Regions from separate parts of the Homo sapiens genome. Here region 2 is linked to region 1. The links come from fine-mapping of genetic effects on gene expression. Tissue or cell type: whole blood. Region 1 holds a variant in brackets; the other region holds the start of a gene. All regions are shown on one strand. Distances are between the middles of the regions. Region 1 has its middle 36 kb from the start of CDC42EP3. Region 2 holds the start of CDC42EP3 (CDC42 effector protein 3).

Region 1 (8,334 bases):
ATTACTTGCTTTCATTCTCAATCTTGTCTGGATAATCAGGTTACAGTATGCTAAGGACATCAAGATGCCCAGAATGGCACAAGTGGAAATTCTTTTAGATGCCTTGTTGTGCGCTCTTGAGTGTCTGTGGTTAGAACTTGATTCTTTACTGGCCTATGGATCAAGTGTCCTGTGGTTTGTGACAGCTGCAGCATTGGATGAGATAACTGGGGGTGCCAGGCATAATTCATCCCCGTATGTCCACATTCTGACTATAGAAAGCTATTGACCTAAAATAACATTTTATATCATTTAAAAATATTTGGGTAGCCTAAGATCCATTTTTTTGTTTTGGATCAGGAGGTACTACATCCAATTTTTACATGTCGTACCTCTTTGTTTTCACAGATAATTTATATTTCTTTATCTCTGACACTATTTGGCTGTCCTAGAAATAGCTGATGACACCAATTAGGAGATACGCTCAGTCACTGATGACGTCCTATCCTATTATGTGTTCATGCACAGCAGGGCAGGGTATCTGAAATGCATTTGCTTTAGCACATTTAGATAATGTGTGGGAAAGGTGACAGGTTTTTATTTTCTTTTTTGCCAATTTGTACATTAGTGTCTCTTAAGTGGCAGATTAAAAATTTCTTAAAGCACTAACACTGATTAAAAATGTTTGTTTAGGCTTGTTCAGAACTCTTAAGTGCTTGCAGGAGCCAAATCACATTCTCGTCCTTTAAGCAAACAACATTTTAAAAGCCTATAATGGCTGTATCTTATTGAAGCAAATGATAATAACTTTCTATAGGGCTATTTTCTTTTATAAGGTAAATAACTAAAACTTGTAAATATGGAAAAATAATCCAGATCCATAGACATATTTGTAAGTATATATTTCTTAAAAATGTTTCAGTCCTATTAGTCTCTATCATTTTAATACACTGGCAAAATATATAGTACTTTGTTCTTTTCTCAAAACTCTTTTTCAGAATTTATGGCATTTCTTGTACCTGGTAAAGACTACTGATAAGCCATTTCTTGTGGACTAATAAAAAAAATTAGTTTTTGGTAAGCATTAATTTTAGTCTCTGCTTTTTATCTGTTTATTCATTCTTTCATCCTTCATTCAGCAATAGCTTCTGTGCTGGGCTGGGAGTCAGGTTGGAGGAATGTGCCCTCTCACCAGGAGGATGGACTTGATTGTATCACTGTGGGGGACCCACTGAATAGTGGGACCTCTGCAAAGTGCAGTGCAGCCCAAGAGGAGAGAACAACTGATTCTAACACAGGCTTCACAGAGAAGGTGACAGAGGTTTTAACGGGTTAGTAAAAAAGGAGTTCATGCAAAGACAGAAAGGCTGAAAAGACGGGTATTTGGGGAGTTCTGCAATGGTAAATGAGGGGGAAGCTAAATGTGTGTGGCTGGTGGCATAAGTAACGTGGGATGTGTAGATTGAGGCCAGAAGGCGAAGGGACTTGAGTGCCATTTTCAAGACTTTGTTTGGACTTTGTCTCCTAGCTATGGAGACCTCATAAGGACCTTTAGTCAGGGTGGTGACTTAAGAGTGGGCACTATTGGAATCAGAGGCTCTTACAATAACTGTGAGAGGGAATAAGGACTTAAGGCAAAGACCTTCTTTGTGATTATAGACAAATTTATTATGCAATACAATAGATAAAAAAGATTAATGCATAAGTCTTCATAGCCCCTCTTCCTCTTCTTCCCCATACCCCCCAGGAAAATTCTAGCAGAGCTATGGATTATGAATTGGATTTTCTTTGGAGTTCTTTAAGAGAAGAATATAAATATTCTAAATGCTTTAATTCTTCTTTGTTGCTACATCTTGATTTGTTTGTTTTTTCACTGTAACTGCACTGAGATCAGTCCCCATGGAGCTCTAGGTTATTAGGGCTACATAACATGTTTTTTTTTTAGGAGAGCCAGTATAATGTTGGGTGACCCAAAGGTTTATGCCTACTTGGGGGCAGTTTGAAGACCTACTAGTTAGTCACATCTACAAAGATAAGATAGGCAAGGTTTTAAAAACCCAAATCCTGTCTGGTTTCCTGCTACCACAGTAATTTCCTGAGGAATACTCCAGGATAAGAACATGCTGTTTATTACCAGCTAGGGCTTTGTCCTTGACACCTCACAAAAGTGCCTGTTCCAGGTCATGAACTTGGGTCAATCTGTGGGCAAGATGTAAGAACCCTTTGCCTCCTCTGAACTCGGAAGCAATTGAGATGACATCCATCTTTGGATGTTCTCTCCTGGACTCTACCTGGTTCCTGCTTGGTTTTCTAACAGAGGGAAAAAAGAGGATGCCGCTTTCCAACCATAAGGAGGCCTCCATCCAATCTTATCCTATCAGCTGCCAGGAAGGAAAAAGAGAGAAGTGATCTCTGTTCTAAGAAAGTTGCATTTTAAAGGAAGAAGTTCTGAATGAAGTGCCCCAATCAGGAGCAAGGATGCTTATCTTCTTTCCTCCTCTGATATGGTTTGACCGTGTCCCTACCCAAATCTTATCTTGAATTGTAGTTCCCATAATCCCCATGTGTCATGGGAGGGACCCAGTGGGAGGTAATCGAATCATGGTGGTGTTTACCTGCATGCTGTTCTCGTGATAGTAAGTTCTCATGAGATCTGATGGTTTTATAGGGGCTTTTCCCCTCCTTCTCTCTGCACTTCTTCTTGCTGCCACCATGTGAAGAAGGGTGTGTTTGCTTCCATTTCTGCCGTGATTCTCTTTCCTGAGGCCTCCCCAGCCCTGCAGAAGTGTGAGTCAATTAAACCTCTTTCCTGTATATTTAATCAACTATCTAGTCTCTGTTATGTTGCTCCATTAGCAGCATGAGAACAGACTAATACAGCTAACCCACTTTACCCTTAGCAGCATAGATTCAATTCCACCTTCTTTGTGGAATTGAATTCCTAATTCATATTAGGGTGTTGGGCAGAGTGAGTATTTGACTTTCATTTATTCATTGGATTTTACATCCAGGTTGTGCCACTAGCACAAACAGTTCATGGAGGGCCTTGTATACCTGTTTAGGAATTTGGGCTTTGTATGGTAAAGGAGAGTTTCTGAAGGTTGTTAATTAGGGACTTTATGGGTTTAGATGTTCAGTTAGAGAAGCTTAAAATATTTTTTAAAATATAGTATCTAAAAAATATTTTTAGAGCCCATCACTCAAAATTAAAAAGGAAAAACATTGGCAGGGGTCATTCTAAAGACAGTGAAATAGTTAGGAAGCTGTTGCTATATAATAGAAGCAAGGTATGATGAGGGCCTGAATGGAGTCAGTGGCAGTGGGATTGGAGAAAAGAGATTGGACATGAGAAATATTTAGGAGGCAAAAGAAGAGGGTTGTGTGGAAAAAGGAGTCACTTCCCGGGTTTTGTCCTGAGAAGCTGGCTGGATGGTATTGTCACTCACAAGCACAGGAGAAGGAGGATGGAAGCATATTTTTGTTGGTGGTGAACTTGATTTGAAATATGGTAAATTTGGGGTTCTGGCAGGCCAAACAAGCAGAGATGTCCAGGGCTCATCTGGATATTCAGGTCTGAAGCCCAGGAGTTGTATTTGGGCAGGAGATAGAGATGTGGGAGTCATCAGAAAATAGATGGCAGTTGAAGCTCTGAAACAAGACATCACCAAACAGAAGAATGAGAATGACCCTAGGGTGCGTGGTAGCAATGGGGTCAGTAGTCGAAGAAGAACCGGGAAGGATTCACAGTGGTGTAGTTGGTGGGAGAGAAGGAAAACCAGAGAGAAGGGAGTGAGAGGAGCAGCAGTGCCCTGGAGAGTCAAGTGCTGCAGAGAAGAGAAGAAAGGGAGGTAGGGTGGGGAACATCTGTGACTTTAGGAAGGTGGTTCATTGGTGACTGCTGAGCGCAGCTTCAGTGAACGGTGGCAGTAGATCTGGAGGAAAGTGACTCAGTGAATGTGAGGTGAGCAAATGGAGACATTGGTGTAAATGCCCCTTTCGAGGTTGTGGAAGTGGCTCACGTTTTTGAGGCAGGGCTGTGTTTGTTTTTCAGAGGTAGGGACTCGAGCATATTCTCTGCAGAAGCCCCCAGTCAGTGAGACTGGTAAAGACTGTTGTCATGTAGTCAGAGGCAGAGTCTCAGTTCTACTCCTTCTCTTATCTCTGTCACACTGAACACTTCTGCTCTTTCTTAAATCACCAGTTGGCTCCTGGGGCTCCCAGGCCTTTCTGGGTTTGCTCTGGGTTTATTC[A/C]CCTCTTGTGTCAGTCTGTTCTCATACTGCTATGAAGCAATACCCGAGACTGGGTAATTTATAAAGGAAAGAGGTTGAATTGACTCATAGTTCTGCAGGACTGGGGTTGCCTCAGGAAACTTATGGTCATGGCAGAAGCGGAAGCAAACATGTCCTTCACGTGGCAGCAGGAGAGAGAAGTGCAAAGGGGGAAAACCCCTTATATAAAAACATCAGATCTTGTGAGAACTCACTATCATGAGAACAACATGAGGGTAACTGCCCCCATGATTCAATTATCTCCTGCTGGGTCCCTCCCATGACACGTGGGGATTACGGGAACTACAATTCAAGATGAGATTTGGCTGGGGATGTAGCCAAACCACATCACCCCTGTTAGAGGTGGAGGATTTGCTGTGCCCCACTCACTGCCACCCCCACTGCCACCAGGGCAGTCATGTCTCACATGGTGCGACATTTGGTATCCCCACTCCTTCACCCACTTGTGCCTTCAGAGAGGACTCGGAGCCCTCAGGAGAGCTACAGGGTAGTCCCGTAAATAGCCAGGGGCCAGTGAGATGATGTACTCTGAGGAGAGGCTTCCCACAATACAAACCTTAGGTGTCAAATGTGCTATGAGGACACTGAGGCATTGTACCCTCAGCACCTGTGGCAGGTAGGTGGGGCCCAGGCCAGCCACAACAGCCCTTTCATTTCCCCATGGTGCTGTCCCAATGTCATAATTTTCTTTGTCATGATATGGGAAGCACTGCCTGATGGGGCCCCACCTCCAGCACATTGGCTGTCTCTCTGTCACTTGGCTTCCTGAATGGTATTTAAACGCCCCCCGCATCACTGTTGGGTCTCAGCAAACTCTCTGGCCTCTTGTTCAATTTGCCCTCTGCATACTGGGAAGGCCTATTTAACTTTGCCTGGCATCTGTGTGGAAGAAACACTTCTTAGGCAAAGAGCTCCTGGAAGACAATCTCCCTAGCAACAATGAAGCATCCTCTCTACAGTCTTTTCTGCCTCTCTTTTGTTGTTATCTGGATGACAGGGATTGAATCTGGCCTCTGCCCATATCAAATGCTGTCTGGGGCTGGAAACAAGCCTCAAAACATGTTTTAAATATTTTATTTCCCCCCGTCTCCCCTAAGTCTGCCCACCATGCATACGCTTGATTAAAGTTATGCCCCAGTGATCAACTGTGAGTGACAGTGACCCTCCTAAAGGTAGTCTACTTAGCCTCTGGGCTCAGGCAACACACCTGTGTCTGATTAGACACTGTTACCCTGCTTGAACCTGTGCCACATGAAAGCAGCTTTCTCTTGTGCTCTGGTAGTGGGAGATGCTTTCTTGTAATGTTAATGCAGGGCTAGACTTTTCTCCTGCTGATCCTTTGCCTGGAATGTTCTCCTCTTCCTTGTCACCAGCCAGAGCACCACTAAATCAGTGTAAACTCCTTAAGGGAAGACTAAAGTCCTGGGAAGTGGGGTCATCCTGGCCTTATCTCCTTAAAGAACCTAACTCTTCAAGGGGGTCTTCCCTGTTAACCCTCTGTATTAGTTGGCTAGGGCTGCAGTTGCCAGTACCATGAACTGCGTGACTTAAACAACAGAAACTAATTGTCTCACAGTTTTGGAGATCAAGATCAAGGTGCCAGCAGGTTTGGTTTCTCCTGAGACCTCTTTCTTTGGCTTGCAGATGGCCACCTTCTTGTTGTGTCCTCCCATGGCCTTTCATCTGTGTGTGTGCATCCCTAATGTCTCTTCCCCTTTTTATAAGGACGTGAGTCCTATCCAATTAGGGTCCCACCCTTATGAGCTCATTCAGCCTTAATTACTTCTTCAAAGGCTTTAGCTCCAAATATAGTCACACTGAGGGTTAGGGCTTCAACATATGAATTTTAAGGGAACACAGTTCAGTCCACCTCATTATCCTTAACGTTTTCCATTTTTCTGTATTCTCTCCAGTGCTTGGGTATTGCATCAGTTTCCTATAATTGCTTTAGCAAATTACTAAAAACTTGGTGGCTATAAACAACAGAAATTTATTGTCTCACAGTTCTAGAGGCCAGAAGTCTGAAATCGGTGTCACTGGGCCGAAATCAAGCTGTCAGCAAGGCTGTACTCCCTCCAGAGGCTCTAGGGGGAAATCTGTCCCTTGCCTTTTTCACTTTTTGGTGGCTGGCAGCATTCCTTGATTTCTGGATGCATCAATCCATCCTCTGTGGTCACATTGTCTACTCCTCTTCTGGTCAAATTTCCCTTTGCCTCTCTCTTATAGGGACAATCGTGATTGCATTTAGGGTCCACCCAGATAATCCAGACTAATGCCCCATCTCAAGATCCTTAACTTAATCATATCTGTAAGGCCCCTTTTACCAAATAAGGTGACATTTATAAGTTCCAGACATTAGAATCTCCTATCTTGGGGGCCATTATTCCACCAGCCACAGGAGTATTGTTCATAATATATCATTTGATGTTTAAACAAATGATGTATCATTTGATGTTTAACAGCTGACCTACAAAAAGAGCCCTTGTTGCAAGGGCAGGAGACACAAAGATGTTTTTGCTGGGTGTGTTCAGACAAGATCACACCCTTCATACCATAATCTAGAGCCTTGGCTCTGTCCTCCCACATGACCTTCGCCTGAGGGGAGGGGCTGGGGACTAGGGAGCCAAGGAGTCTCCCTGGGGAGGTGAGGTTTCAGATGATCCAGGGGTTGGAAGAAGTTTCTCCCATGCATTTTTATCTCATGGCTGGTTAAGAGGGGTGGGCATCCCACTCCCGGAAGCCATTTCACTTTGAATACTTTGTTTACTTCTGGTTAGAAGAGTCTTCAGGAGTGTGGGCTCTGGTAAGAAGGTCCCATTTTCCCTGGACTTATACAACCAGGTCTGCTTCTTGTGTTTTGCTATCGTGACACTTTTACAATTTTTCCTCTCAGTTACCTAAGGTACCTGATGAATAGTCAACATGTTTGTGAAGTCCAGAGTGCCAGATGTATTGAAAATGAGCAATTTTAATCAACGGTGAACCTACCTCTTTATATTTTTTTTTTAAAAAGAGGGCGATTACTGAAGCTTCACAAATAGTGCTTTATTTAGTCATAGGAGCCATGATCTGGTACTAGGATGGGAGGACTTTATTGGCTGCTAATCTAAGATTGTGTTTGTCTGTTCTTCCTTCTTGCCATTTATGGTGGAAAAATCTTCCAGAGCACCACAGGTGTTTTGTTTCTTGCTTCTAGTCCCATCCCAATTTCATTTTCATGAAATGGGAGTCAGGTTTGGAAGATAATTACCAATTTCCTTTTCCTACTTTTAACAATGCCCCTGCTTACGGTACAAAGTTGTGTCTGAACATTACTGCTTATTCTGAAAAACTCAATATGTAATTTTTAATGTCGTTTCAAGCCTTTTGAAGTTTCATCTGTTTCTGGGGCATTGCTAATGGTTTACCTTACAACGCAGAAAGAACTTATAAAGGAGATGTCAGGAGAAAATAATAATCTCCTCAATGCAATCATGTCATTAAGATGCTACTGTTAAGAGTGGGGGATGAGGCAGAGGAAAGACCAGACAGTGACTTAGAAACATGAGCATTTGGCATCGAAGGCATTACTGTCTTGAAGCCTTCTGGCCTGTAGGGTGTATGGAAACATGTCAGTTATGGAGAGTTTTATATTAATCTCCTGTACCATCTAATTTGGTTGATTCAAAATTAGGTTTAATTACAAGTGATCTTCTGGCACTAGGGAGACCGGCCAACAATAACCTTCATTATCTCTTCTGGTGAAGGCCACATTTGCTCTCAGGTAAATCTCTCAGAAAAGCTCATCACTGCCCATTTTTCTTTGGTCCCAGGCAAAATTATGCATTACATGAACTCACTCTTCATGTTTTTCCTGGTCTCTCTTGCTACCTGGTCCCAGGCCAGTTGCTAGAGACTTGTGCTCCCACAGTGGGCATCTGATAAGTGAGTTCACTTTTCACTGTTGGTGGCTTGCAGATGTTGTTACTCCTGGAATTATTCTAAGGGGACTCCATGCCTAATAGAAAAAGCCTCACCTAAAAAGGAACCCATCTCCAAGGGTAGATTTTTCTAGCCCTGGGGCAGC
Region 2 (8,334 bases), 35 kb after region 1:
TTAAAAAGTTTTAAATTTGGGATTCTAGAATTCTATTAATTCATGACTTAGGCAAGCAGTAAGGACTAAGCAAACACTAGTTTGGAACTCATCAGCTTTCACACAGTTTACTTGGCTATTTAGAAATAGTAATCTTTTAAATCTCAGCATCATGCTTTGTATTATAAAACTGTATGGTTAAAATTTGAAAACTGCTTTTCTACCAGAGGTACTGTCAAATTCAGTCCATCATCATGTGATTCTGATGAAACTTGGCACTGAAGTATATCAAGGAGAAAGCTTTTTTTTTTTTTTAAGGAAAGAAACACACCTGACTATTGCTTTAGAACTACATGGCTACTTATTCTGGTTTGTGGGGTATTGTTTTGTTTTGTAGCCTTTAAGAGGTGGGGACAGGAGAAGATTTCAAATGGAATTGGACAGCTCCAAGACTGTAACCATTGGCTTTGAGGCTACCTGAGTTACTTCGGACTGTCCTTTCCAGAACCCTGTTTCCATCTGAGAAGTCTCTGGAGCTGATCCCCACAGCTAATCACAAACCCAGAGCATCAAAGCAGTGGAGGCCAAGGCAGGCCCTGTGGGTTTTCCGGGGCAAGCAGTAAGGACAAGGTTTCAAAGGTTTCCTTGTTGTGTGTTTCTTATCTAGCAGGGCCCAGGGGATATGCTGAACTGTAACAGGGCTTGACTTCTGCCATGGACACAGCCCAGTGCCTTTCTGTTCACTTTACCTGTAGCTCCTCTTCTGCTGAGTTCTTGCAGCAACATCATCAACAAACATGGACTAAAACGTCCACTGAGTGCCGGGACTGAAGGCCCAGGTAGTGTGGTTCCTGCCTTCAAGGAGGGGATTGTCCACAGGTGGTTACTGGACTCTGCAACCCCGGGCTCCCCAGAATTTTGAAGCGAGCACACAGTCTATGCTAGAGCTTCACTTCATCCCCAGCCACCAGAAGTCCTTGTCCCTGGCTGTGGCTTGGCTTGCTTTCTCACCATATAGTCCCACATTTTCACCTAGTAAATCTCTTCGTTTATGGCATAAATTAAACTGCTTATGTTAACCCTAGCAGTGTTCATGCTAGATCCACTTTCATGCCACATATGTGGGATTGAATCATCTTTAATAATAAAATAATTTACATAGTGTTCCTCAAGGCTGGCAATTACTGTCATCTTCAACTGTGAGATACAGGGTGATATGAAATTATTTCCTTGCCAGAGGCCAAAAGTCATAACAAAAATCAGATTTAACAACTTCTCTGCCCCTCCTCCCCATTGGTGGGGGTGTGGTATTTAGTATAAGGTCAAAAAGACCTGAGTTCAAACCCTGCTTCTGCTATTTAGCTGTGTGACCTTGGCCACGTTACTAAACCTTTCTGAGCCTGTGTTCTCATCTGGAAAAGAAGAGCAATATAATAGTCTGCCTTATCCTCCACGGATATGTTCCAAGACCCCCAGTGGGTGCCTGAACCTTGGACAGTACTGAACCCCATATATACTATGTTGTTTTTTATACATACATACCTGTTATAAAGTTTAATTTGTAAAGTAGGCACAGTAAGAGATTAACAATAGAATAATTATAACAATGTAATAAAAATTACATGAATATGGTCTCTTTCTTTCTTAAAATGCCCCATATTCACCTATTTTCAGACCATGGTTGACTATGGGTAACTGAAACCCTGGAAAAGAAAACCACGGGTAATTGGGGACCACTGTACTATCTCTCTCAAAGAATAGTTATGAATATTACATGACAGAACCAGTATTAAGTACCTAGGAAAAAAACAAAAGCAACATTGAAAACCTCAACCTTTTATTGTGGCTACTCTGGGCCAGGCACTGTTCTGAGTACATAATCTTTTTTAACTCCTTTAATCCTCAGGGAAATAATATTATCTCCATTTTACAAAGGATAAACTGAGGTAAAGGTGAGGTAACTTGCCCAAAGTCACACAGGTGTTAAGTGCCAGAACTAGGACATGTGCCCAGGCAGCCTGACTCGGAGGCTTCAGAAGTTCAGTTTTTTTTCCCATCCCCTTAACCCAAAGAGCTGCTGACTTTCACATAGGATTAGCCACTCATGCCTGCACATATTGTGTTGTTAAACTGCACACGCATGTTTAGGTTTTGCTTACTGCACAACTTTGGGTAAGTTATATAACTGGTCTATCCTCAGTCTCTACACCAGCAAAATGGGGATACAACGGTTCTTTCATTAGATGATTGCTAGAAACAAGTAAGATAATCAAGACAAAAGGCTGAGAAGAGTGCTTGACACATAGGACGGGCTCCACTTAGGAAGTGCTTTTAACATCCAAAGTAATGAACAATGCAATATATTAGGAAAATTCTTGGTCTTCTATGGCTTGGTGAGGCACACAAGATTTTGTGGCTGGCTGAATCCAGTATTTTCAAATGGCTATCCTTGTTCTCTGGCAAACATACTGCATTTAAAAATAGATTTCTCATTCAATCAATGAAAAGAAATACAGGTTCACAGGATTCTGGTTAGTAAGAAATGAGACTGGGCCTAGATAAAATCTGACTGAAAGCAAGAATCTGAATAACAATAATAATAATAATAATACGATCAGAGCAGTCTTCTTGGAGGTTTTTAGGTTACGAATTATATTCCACCCACTGGATAAATGTTACAGTTAATGGTCAAAGAATTTGTGAAAAATCTATGGCCTGGCTAAAAAAAAAAAAAAAAAAAAATCTTTGGGTGATACAGGTGAAAGCAATTTTATCCCCAACACTGTTGAATACCAGGAACTTTATACATGAAAAAAGCACAGCTTTTGTGAGCATGTTGGACATAAAACAAAACACCACATTAAAGGAAAGGCTGGAGCGCAGACAGGGCAAATGAACTCATGTGAGCCCTTCTGCAATCACTGTTACGGCTTTGTATTTATTCATCTTGCACCGCACTTAAATGTGCAATAAAAAGCAAAAAGTGTGCAACACTTATTACTCTAGCTGCTTTTACTTGTTCCATAGAGATACGTGAAACAATTTCACTGCTCAGATTGAGGGAAAGAGGAGCTCATCTCATTTCAAGCCTGTAGCTGCTGCCACAGCCTCAGCACCATGTTCTAATCATAGAATTCATCATGTAAATCTCTAGCAGATGATGCCATTGGAAAACAGAAACTGCCATGGATCCAGAAATGCTTCCAAATTTCTCCTCTAAAGTTCTTATCTGTGAGCCCAGAGGCTGGTGCTGTTTTATTCAAATGGGTGAGGCCCATTGGGAAACCCGCATTCTTTGGGAGACTTTATGAAGAATTTCAACCATTCCTTGACTATAGAAAGGGCCTTTATCATTTATTTCACATATGAAAATGCTAAATATTTCACAACTACTCCAACTTATTTCTGAGTGTCTAAATCTATTCTGAAAAGGGTATGCATCACACACATACCTGTGTAGCTTATTAACTACCAATAAGAGCTCACACAAATTGCAGGGGGTATGAAAGAGTAGACTTCTGGAACTGTCCAGAAAAGAAGAGAAGGTACATTTCCTGGTTTTAAGATGAAAGAGCTTGTGTAAATTAGAACATTACAGGAGCCTTTTAAATTGTCTTAGGGATACCTTTGGGGCATCATCGCTGGTTCCTGGTGAGTCTTTTTTCTCCCTGTGATGTTAACAGGAAGTCCCTAAAACTGGCTTTGCTATTAAAATACAGACATCTGCTGCTCTCCTAATTTTTGTTCCTTTTAAAAGGCAGTACTCCCAAGAAACTCTTGGATATTGTGAGAATTAAGAGCTGGGAGATGGGGATGGAATCTTTGTCTCCCTAACACATTCATCAGTTCCCTCCCTAGAGCCCCCCTACAACCTCAGCACACAGCAGCAGCCCACTCCTCCAAATACGCCAGGGCTGGAAAGATTCATGTTGCAATACCCTCCTGACATTCCTCATTTTAATTCGCTCACTTTTTTTTTTTTTTTTTTTAAACAAAATGTAATTACTTGACTGTCAGCCTAGGCTGCACTCTGGGGCTTTTACTCCTTTCAACACAGCTGCGCTCCCGGCTTTGATGCTGCTGTCCACGCAGCTTGTCCCAGCCACAGCCTGGCTCTCAGTAATGTAACATTCAAGTGCATATTTATTTTTAAACTGACCTCTCCTAGACTGCACAGTATAAAGGAGATCCTGCCCAAAAATATGCTACTTTCTATTTATAAGATGAAACACATGCCTCCCAAAGTCGAGAGAGGGATAGAGTATAATAATTCATAACGAAAAAATGGCCAGATCCATTCATCCTCACATGTCTGATACTTGTCTGTGTCAAGCCACTTAGTTTCAAGGAGAAAGGGAAGAAAACAAAAAACAAAAAACCTTGTAAACGTCTCAGCTGTTCACCGTCAAAAAACAAAAAAGTCAATATCCAGATCTGCAGGTTGGCGCCCCACTAACAATGTCCTCCATTAAGAAAGAGGAGGGCACCGGGCAGGCGATGCCACGGCAGAGCTGTGCGATGCACCCATGTGCGGCCCTGGTACCAATCCATGATGCGAGGGGCGCGGTAGCCAAGCGCGGCTTGTTCTCAGATGGAAAAATGCTATACGCGCCCAGAATGGCTCTGCCAATAGCTCGGAGGGTGCAATGTGGCCGCGCAGCCCCACCCTGAAAAGTAGTGGGCACAAATGGTGGAGCTCTGAGTCCTGGTCGTGCCGCCGGACCCCCTCCTGGCTTGCTTTATGTCCCCTTCGTTCCGTTGGACACTAGATGGGAAAGCGATGCCCTGGGTATCCCGACTCCCTGCTGGTTTCCCAGCCTAACACCAGCGCACGCCGGAAGCGGCCACGGCCGCGGGCGGGACAGACTCACAGACAGGTAGAGAGGAAGGAGCCCTGGGCTGCCCCGACTCACCGGCCGCCGCTGAGGATCCCAGCCGCTGCCCCGGGCCTCCCGCGGGCGCACGCAATCCCTGCCGCTGTGCGCAGATCCAGCCGAGTCTGCCGGCGTGGTGCCTGCTCACCGCATTATCCGCTCCGAGACGGCGTGAAGGCGCCCCAGGCCGGTGGCCGGGTCTCCGGGCTAGCCCCGCGCTGCGGTCCCCCGGCCGCGAGAGAAGGTGCGCGCGACTGAGCGCGGGGCGGCCGGACGCGAGGACTGAACCTGCGGAGGGCGGGGCGGCGCGGGGCGGGGCCGGCGGCGCGGGGACTCACTGGGGCGGGGCGGAGGGCGCGGGCAGCGGGGCCGACCCTCCCAGCCGCGGTACCTGTGCCCTGGCCCGGGGCCAACCGGTGGCCGGGCGCGCGCGCGGGGGGGGGTCACCGTTGGACCCTCGGAGGACAATGGGCGCCCATTGTTACCTCCCCAGCGCCACCCCCCAGTAGGCGACTTCTCTCGGAGAAGATGCCGCTTTCGACTCCCTAAGCACAAAGAAAGGTCGCCGGACGCTCGGTTTAAAGAGGGACCCGGAGGTGCTGCCGCCCGGGTGCACGGGGACAATAGGACTCCGCCCGCACCCCGGACTCCCGCACTAAAACTCGTGCGCCCACCTCTCCCGATCCCAACAGGCCGACCTAGCTGTGCGAGTGGCGGGCGGTGACCCGCAGGGAAGCGAGGCCACCTGAGTGCGCCGCCCCGGCCAGGCCGCAGCTCCCCAGGTCCCTCTCAGCCCGGGCTCCGGTGGGCGCGGAGGGGGAGGGTCGCGTTCTGTCAGTTTCTAGCTCGCTCCCCTCAGAGCTGCAGCCAAAACCCGGAGAGTGGAATAAGCGCCCTGAAGATGCCGGAGCTCCCGGCTGAGCAACTGGACACGCGACGAACAGCAGACGCTACAGGTTCTCCTACCCAGAGGGAGGCGTTTCTTCTCCCTCAGGGTCTTTCAAAAGGATTTGCCTAAAGCTGGGGCAAGCCGGTGGCGGCTGCCCCAGACGCGCGACGAGGCGCAAGTGGCGCAGCTGCCGGCCCGAGAGAGTAAAATTCAGGCCGCGGTGGCACCTGCGCCCGCCGGTCACCCGGCCACCGCCAGCGCCGCCGCCCGGCGCGCCCCTCCCCTCCGCCGGGGCCGGAGCGTGAACCGGGTTAATGAATGCTAATTTTCTTAATCGGCCTCCGTCTCTTCCTCCTCCGCGAGTCGTCGGCCTGGGGAAGGAGTAGGCGACAGGAAAGGGCGGTGTTTTCCGGCTGGGAGGTCCCAGCCCGCATGGTCAGCCAGGGGAGGGGGCTGGGACCCCTGGGAGTCGGACGCTGGGGGCCTGGCCTCTGCCCTGAGACTCTCGGGTTGGATGGAAATCCTGGCACAACGCGGAGAACCTCCCGGATACCTTGGCTTTGCCGAGAGATATCAGCTTCAGGTCATCACCGCGGTGCCCTGGGTCTGTCTGAAACCTTAGAGGGTGCGCCTTAAGCCGATGTTGTAAACCCAGGCTGACTTTAAGGTGAAGTGAAAAGGAAACGCACACAATCTGGAAAGCAAAATACTTGGGTGGGGTGTTAAAAGCCTCAAAGAAAAATAGTAGTTGGCAGGTCAAATGGCCATGAGGTTGGAAGTCAAATACGAAACTCGGCTGAAGTGATGTTAGAAGTTTGACAAGCAAAAACAGTCCGTGAAGATAAGAGACCCAGCATTGTTTCCCTTCTTCAAAAGACAACTCGTCCAAAGTTTCCTTTGGCAGATACCTGGATTCTACTCCAGATTCCTGAGCATTTTACTTGGGTTTCATATTTCAAAATATATGTTCCATTTGGCACTAATGTATATATTTTATATATTAATTTATTGAAAAATATTAAATGTTCCTGGCCTACTTAGAAAAAGGTATTTTTATAAATATTTATGCATAGTTTTCATTACATAGGGTATTTTATAAGTCCAAATAATATGTGTATATATATAAAATACCACATGCAAAATTCCTTTTGAACACATAAAGACATTCCCGACACACATGTCTTGTATGTAATTTTTTTCACGTGATCTATTGTTAGCTGCTGTTAAAAGCACTTTATTTCTACATGGCCAAATAAATAACTTCTTTTACAGTTTTTGCAAATATAGAGTGGCAGTTTGTCTGAAACGGCATTTTTATTCTAAAACCTATTTTTACTTTTCTACATTATCCCTTGCCTTTTAGAGGCTTTCTCTCCCTCTGCCGTTTTTAAATGAGACTTCACTGCTGGACTCTAAACAGTTATCCAGGACCTGCTCATTCAAGGGCCTGGTGGTTTGATTTATCTTGGCTCCTTTGGCCTCGCCTCCCCACCCCTCCCCTGCCCTCCCCTCCCCACCCCTCCGCTTCCCTCCCCTCCCCTTCCCTTCCTTTCCTTTTTTTTTTTTTTCCCCCAGGGTCTCAAACTCCTGGCCTCAAGTGATCCTTCTGCCTCAGCCTCCGAAAGTGCTGGGATTACAGGCATGAGCCACCATGCCCTGTGCCTCACGTTATTTCTTTGTACTGAACATCTTCAGTGAGTAACTGATCCCTCATATAGTGAATTATTCTTCCAAATGAGTGCATTTCCTGTGCTAACTATGATAGCTTGTAGAGTTGATGGATTTAGGTTTCAACATGTTATGGGAGTCTACTACCGGAAGAGAGGAAAAAGCTTTGCTTCAGGAAGATTTTAGGAGTTTTGAGATTCTGCTGTGAATTTTGGAAAGGTTTAGCCTTAAAAACATTTGGTGGTAACCTTAGAAGCCTGGTATCTGTAGACCACCTGTCAGGCCCAACAGTGGGCTGTTTTTCTATTAGTCCCTACTTGGGAGAAAAGCCAAGTAGTATTGTCAGTGCCCTTGCTGTCCAGAAACCTGTGATCTACCTAAGTGCAGAGAGCACCTTGCCAGTGTACACAAGCAAATGCTGACCACATTCTAGTCTCTTGCTACCAAGTATGGTCCCAGGACCAGCAGCACCAAGCCTCACTCCAGGGCTACCAAGTTGGAATCTTCAGTCTAATGAAATGTGGATAGTTTGCGTGCAGATTTAATGTTTGAGAAGCACCGTCCATGAGTGCTTGGTGGTTCTCCACCTTTCAAAGCTACAAACTCATTTGAAAATCTCATGGGATTTATGAGCACCCTTGGAAAAGCATATTGATTGATACACAAAATTTTTCATATGCAGTTTCAGAGTTCCTGTAAATAATCTATTGATGCCAGGGAAGTCCTAGGTTAAGACCCCCTAGTCACAAAGAAGATTGACTCAGTGTCAGCTGGAGGAGTTAAGAGAAGATTCTCACAGGGGGCAGAGCTTAAATTAAACCTGGGGAATTTGATAGGAAGAGGAGTAAAGAAGAGCATTTCAAGCTGTTGAAATGCAAAGGTCCTGAGAGGGAAAAAGAGAATGTCCTTTTTTGTATGTGTTCA

The links. PIP is the estimated chance that this variant, and not a neighbour inherited with it, causes the effect.
Region 2: it holds the start of CDC42EP3, and the variant in region 1 is fine-mapped to the expression of CDC42EP3 in whole blood (TOPMed, PIP above 0.99).

The regions. Positions count from the first base shown.
Region 1 is chr2:37,631,345-37,639,678 of GRCh38, forward strand. No RefSeq gene overlaps it. Among named protein-coding and RNA genes, the nearest start is that of CDC42EP3, 36 kb to the right of the region's middle. RefSeq lists enhancers at 2,498-2,697, 2,718-2,787, 4,320-4,549. The variant A/C (reference allele first, on the strand shown) is at 4,230.
Region 2 is chr2:37,666,534-37,674,867 of GRCh38, forward strand. It overlaps CDC42EP3 (CDC42 effector protein 3), which reads right to left and starts at 5,109. Exons shown (of 2, transcript NM_006449.5): 1 at 4,893-5,109. RefSeq lists silencers at 4,898-5,387, 5,558-5,617, 5,628-5,697, 5,918-6,087.